2 separate regions of the Homo sapiens genome follow, and region 2 is linked to region 1. A link means that fine-mapping ties the variant in region 1 to the plasma level of a protein whose gene starts in the linked region. Region 1 holds a variant in brackets. A gene starts in the other region. All regions are shown on their reverse strands. Region 1 overlaps SIGLEC1 (sialic acid binding Ig like lectin 1). Region 2 holds the start of CLEC5A (C-type lectin domain containing 5A).

The links. PIP is the chance, under the fine-mapping model, that this variant and not a neighbour inherited with it causes the effect. The UK Biobank Pharma Proteomics Project read protein levels with antibody pairs (Olink). The fine-mapping took linkage between variants from a reference panel, not from the people measured, so its PIPs are less certain.
Region 2: it holds the start of CLEC5A, and the variant in region 1 is fine-mapped to the plasma level of the CLEC5A protein (UK Biobank, PIP 0.92).

The regions. Positions count from the first base shown.
Region 1 is chr20:3,704,893-3,707,798 of GRCh38, reverse strand. It overlaps SIGLEC1 (sialic acid binding Ig like lectin 1), which reads left to right. Exons shown (of 22, transcript NM_023068.4): 2 at 562-719; 3 at 1,093-1,452; 4 at 1,759-2,055. The coding sequence starts at 671. Among named protein-coding and RNA genes, the nearest start is that of SIGLEC1, 6.3 kb to the left of the region's middle. The variant G/T (reference allele first, on the strand shown) is at 1,305.
Region 2 is chr7:141,945,741-141,948,646 of GRCh38, reverse strand. It overlaps CLEC5A (C-type lectin domain containing 5A), which reads left to right and starts at 1,673. Exons shown (of 7, transcript NM_013252.3): 1 at 1,673-1,840; 2 at 2,335-2,433. The coding sequence starts at 2,355. RefSeq lists an enhancer at 1,992-2,906.

The DNA of each region.
Region 1 (2,906 bases):
AGTGGGTCTGCGGAGAGCAGGGAATGGGGACAGAGCTGGGGGCAGGAAATGAGGACTTTTCACATCTCACGGGCAATGGGGAGCCACAGAAGGTTTTTGAGCAGGGGAGTGACTGTTAAAGGCAGCACTTCGGCAAGTTCAGTAAAGCCCCATTATGGTCTATAGTTAGTAAGGCAGGTGGTAGGAGACAAGCCTCAGGAAGAAACCATCATTCTAGCTGGGTGTCTTGGAGTGAGTAACTGGGCATCTCTGGGCTCCAGTTCCTGTTGGTTTGGGTGGTGGGGAGGGGGCAGGGAAGTGGGGAAGAGGGAGAAACAGCTGTTCATCTGCCTTAGGGTGGTATCCTTGAGGGGCTGGGAAAGCAGAACTTGGGATAGGGCCAAGGGACACACAGGCTTTTCTGAGGCAGGCCACCAAGTGAGGGCATTCCTGGGCACAGCCTGAGCTGGGAACGTGGCCTCCTGGCTCTCTGCTGGTGTCTGACTCAGAGGTCTTTAAGAGCCCTGCCCTCTTATTGGGTTGGCCAGCAGAGGAGGTGGGGACACAGGCTCGGACTTCTAGCAGGTGCTGGGGCTAAAGTGCCCAGAGGTGTCCCTGGAGGCCCCTGTGAGCCCAGCCAGCGCAGTGCGCACCACCCTCTTAGGCAACAGGAGCAGCACAAGAACCTGCTATGGGCTTCTTGCCCAAGCTTCTCCTCCTGGCCTCATTCTTCCCAGCAGGTAAGCTTTGCGGGCCTAGTGCCTGTCTTCCAGGGTCCAGCCTTCATAAGTCCAGCCCTTGGCAGATTAGACTATGCCTGGGTCACATGTTTGGTTGCTGAGGTCAAGGGAGGGCCCAATCGGGCAGTGGCCAGGAGCTGGGCAGGAAGCTGCCATCTGTCTTCGAGCCACCCTACCAAACCTCTGAGCAGCCTCGGGCAGTGGACTGACCCCTGGGGCACTGAGAAGGGCTGCTCTAAGTGTGCATTTCTCGGGGCAGGGCAGAATTTGGGAGCCCAGCTGGGGCACCTTCTCTGGGGCAGGTCGCAGGGCTCTGTGGCACCCTGAGGCCTGTATCACCCTCCCCTCTGTCCCCCTGCCGTTCTTCCCCCAGGCCAGGCCTCATGGGGCGTCTCCAGTCCCCAGGACGTGCAGGGTGTGAAGGGGTCTTGCCTGCTTATCCCCTGCATCTTCAGCTTCCCTGCCGACGTGGAGGTGCCCGACGGCATCACGGCCATCTGGTACTACGACTACTCGGGCCAGCGGCAGGTGGTGAGCCACTCGGCGGACCCCAAGCTGGTGGAGGCCCGCTTCCGCGGCCGCACC[G/T]AGTTCATGGGGAACCCCGAGCACAGGGTGTGCAACCTGCTGCTGAAGGACCTGCAGCCCGAGGACTCTGGTTCCTACAACTTCCGCTTCGAGATCAGTGAGGTCAACCGCTGGTCAGATGTGAAAGGCACCTTGGTCACAGTAACAGGTGATAAGTGGGGTGGCCTGGCTGCCCCCCGGGAGGGATTCCCAAGCTGCTTCTGGACCCCTTGGCTCTCAGCCCCAGCCCTTGTCCTGAATCTAACCCCAGCCAGTCTCAGCCTCTGTTCCAGCCCCGGCGTAGGCCCAGGCCTGGTTCTCCCTTGTATTCACCCAAGTGGGGCTGGAGTAGAAAGCGTCTTTCCTTCCCCTAAAAGCCCCCTCCCCAGGGCTCTCTCCTCAGCTGGGGTTTCCAGGGCGAGGGATCTCAGGGGTGGCAAAAGCGGGTCCTGAGCACTGCTGTCTCTGTCCTCAGAGGAGCCCAGGGTGCCCACCATTGCCTCCCCGGTGGAGCTTCTCGAGGGCACAGAGGTGGACTTCAACTGCTCCACTCCCTACGTATGCCTGCAGGAGCAGGTCAGACTGCAGTGGCAAGGCCAGGACCCTGCTCGCTCTGTCACCTTCAACAGCCAGAAGTTTGAGCCCACCGGCGTCGGCCACCTGGAGACCCTCCACATGGCCATGTCCTGGCAGGACCACGGCCGGATCCTGCGCTGCCAGCTCTCCGTGGCCAATCACAGGGCTCAGAGCGAGATTCACCTCCAAGTGAAGTGTGAGTTGTCTGGGGACACACCCTTGTGGCTGAGCGCATCTGTTGCTCCTGACAGAAACCAGCCCCTCTCCAGCCCACAGAAACGGAACCCTTGCTCCTGATGCAAAACCAGGCTGCTCCTGGGCCTCCAGGGTAGGGCAAGTGGAGAGACACTGCTGAGCCCCAAGGACTTCGTTAAATGGTTCCCTCCACCTCCTACTGCTTCGAAGGGGCTTGTCCTTGAGGCCAGGCTGGGCAGAGAAAGGGAGACACAAAGGGTTGGGGAACAGGAGCTCCCATGCAGCTTCAGGGTTGGCAGCAAGTGCCCCGGGATTTACCCCGTGCTGGAGGATGCTGGGGAGGTGGGATTTATCCCTTTCCTGCCTGGCTCTGTTTTCTCAGTCTATGACGAAGATAACAATAGATGGTTCCTGTCTCACAGATTTATGATAAAAATTAAAGGAGATGGGCCGGGCGCGGTGGCTTATGCCTGTAATCCCATCACTTTGGGAGGCTGAGGCGGGTGGATCACTTGAGGCCAGGGATTCAAGACCAGCTTGGCCAACATGGTGAAACCTCGTCTCTACTAAAAATACAAAAATTAGCCGGGTGTGGTGGCATATGCCTGTAATCCCAGTTACTAAGGAGGCTGAGGCACTAGGATTGCTTGAACCCCGGGGGTGGAGTTGTATTGAGTTGTGATTGTGCCACTGCACTCCAGCCTGGGTGACAGAGTGAGACTGTGTCTCAAACAAAAAACAACAACAACAACAAAAACAAATAAAGGAGATGACCCAGGTCAAGGATTTAGAAGAGTGCCTGGCACATATTAAACACTTGAGGCCGGATACAGTGGCTCACACCTGTAACCC
Region 2 (2,906 bases), not on the chromosome of region 1:
AGATTTTATTAAGTTATTCAGAAAGTCTCTGTTAAAAACTTTCTAAATAATAATAACCAAGTCTCCTGATTCCCATACTTCCTAACATAGCTGGCATAATTGGCCATATTTATTGTCCAATAAATATATGGATCCTTCTGGACAGCAATCTAGGGTCTAGAAGTAATTACCTTGTGACCAGATAAATCAGGTTCAATGAGATTTTTCAAAAACACAGAGGACTATCCAAGTAGAACAAAACACAACTTTAATGTTCCAAAGCCCTCCAAATGTACATGTCTTTTGATCCAGCATTTATATTTCTGATAACTTAGCCCAAGAAAGTTATTAAGGACATGTAAAAGGATGCATGCACTTAGCTGTTCACTGTGCATTGGGAAGATAGTTAGAAGAGTTTTAGAAAATAGTTAGAATACTAAGGATTTATGTTTAAGATGCTGAGTATCACGCTATTGAAATTACAAGCATTATCTTGCTCATTTCTCGGAACAATCCTATGTGGTATTTACTATAATTACTCCTATTTATAGATAAAGAAATGGAAGGTAAAGAGACTCAGTAACTTAATCAAGGATGTTCAGCTAGTGAAGGTCAGCTCCAGGAATCAAAAGCAGGACTGATTTTTAAAACTTTGTTCTTGTCCACCACACTTTACTAGAAGATTTGTGGTTATGCAATTGTTAAAGAAATAATATACTTTTACACCTGAATAAATAAATCATATAGTTTTACACCTGAATGCTATGCACATATTAAATAATACATTATCAAAATCTATATTTTGACATGAAAAGATATATATAACATAGTGTTAGCTTAATCTTGAGCAGATAGATTGCAAAACAATATGTACAATATGTTCCCATTGTTCTTTGTGAACCAGTGTTTTTCTGTCTATCTATCTATCTATCCATCTATCTTTCTATCTACCTACTCATCTCGAAAGGATACACCCTGAGGTGCTAGCAATGACTATAACTAAATGTACAAGGTTATAAATGGTTTTGTTTTCTCAATTTTCCTTGTTAATATTTTCCAGCCATTTTTTTGTCATGAGCACAGTAGTTTTCATAGTAGGGAAAATAAAAGCAAATTTTCAAATTTAACACGAAATTAAAAACTCCTTGACAATAGGACTTGAGTATTGTTCACCCCAGCCCACTGCTGTATCCAGCAGAGTGCCATGTTCAAGAAACACTGAAGAGCCACCATGAGGTCTGGAAGGTGAGCAGGTGGTGCCAGAGAGGAGTCCATGATAAAGGGGAATGAGCAGAGCTCCAGCAAATGGAGCAAATGGAACAGCAAGAACCTGCTCATTCATATTAGTGTCTTCAACTGGATTTCTTAACATTTTTAACTTGACATAATTTCAGACTTGCAGAAATGTTGTAAGGAAAGTACAAATAACTTCCAGCTACCTTTTATCCAGATTCAATGTTTGTTAAAATTTTACTACATTTCTCTTCCCACTGTATTTCAAGGAGATTTAGACACAGAGGAAGGGTGAATCTGTGTTGAGGTATTTTGTTTTCCAAATTGTCCTTAAAATGTTCCTCTGCATTAGAACTCTCCTGGCAGGAAGTCTGCTCTTGCCACCACTAGGGCTAGAGAGTCTCTTCCCTTCTTTGCCCCGCCTGCTCCCTTTGCCAAGAACCCCACTGAACAGGAAGAGGTATTTCTTGGGGATGCTACCAAGGCAGAGACTGTGAAGAAGGAAGAACGTTGCTTGGGCAAAAGGAGCATATTCTCAGGAGACGGGGCCCCTGCCTGCCACACCAAGCATTAGGCCACCAGGAAGACCCCCATCTGCAAGCAAGCCTAGCCTTCCAGGGAGAAAGAGGTGAGTCTGTCTGTCTGTCTTGGCTGCATGGACTGTTGACCAATGCCAAGACCTTCAGGGATGCCTGTCCTGTCTGTCACCTACCCCTGGTATTTGGAAGACTGAGGCTTCTGACAACTTAAGTCAGTATGGTGAAGGCTACAGACTAAGGTCCTTGGGAACAAGGGTCATTTCAAGGATAAGGGTTCTCAAAATACAGGAGAGGGTTTAATTATTAGACAGAATTTAGGAGGCCACAAATAGGGCAAGGCTGAGGCCTGGAGTAGGGAATGAGTGAAGGAGAGGCAGTATGCCAAGTTCCAAGGCTCCAATCAATACATGATTCTTTCTGTGTTCGCGGCCCACGCTGGGTCACCTCCTGGTACCTGTCAATGTCATGCCTGTCTTCCAAGCCTGCCTTGCTTTGGGTACTCTGAGCGAGAGGCTGGGATATGTCCTAGTGAAAAGCAGCCTTGTACCCGAATTCTGATGCTGCTGTGCTCTAATCTTCACAGGCCCCTGCAGCTCCTTCATCATGAACTGGCACATGATCATCTCTGGGCTTATTGTGGTAGTGCTTAAAGTTGTTGGAATGACCTTATTTCTACTTTATTGTGAGTATTTGAGCAACCTCTTGCCCCAGACTTCATGTTGTCTTGCTCATTGACTCTTCTCTCAGAATGCATGGTTGTGTGTAAAGGTTACATATCCAAGTCTTTCCACCTGAGACTAACTGACCCAACCTGAGGTCAATTGGCAATGCCTTTCTCACTCCCCAGCACACACAGTGGCCCAGGCTCCTTGGTCTACCTTGGAGATATAGAACTTACCAGTTTCTGATGGTTAGAACGCCACGCAAAGCTTTTGCTAGTAGAGTATTATTTGGGTGATCTCAGCTGAAGTACTTGGCAGCGCTTGTTATTGTTGGCAAAATCTAAAATACAGCTCCAGTTCAACCCAATGACAAGGCCATGGTAAGAGCTGAAGTATAATGTAACAGGATTTAACTGAGAAAGAAATTTCTCTTTGTATACATATAAATTAATTCATCCAAATGCCTAGTTAAAGAAGCCTCCTATGAAAGGAT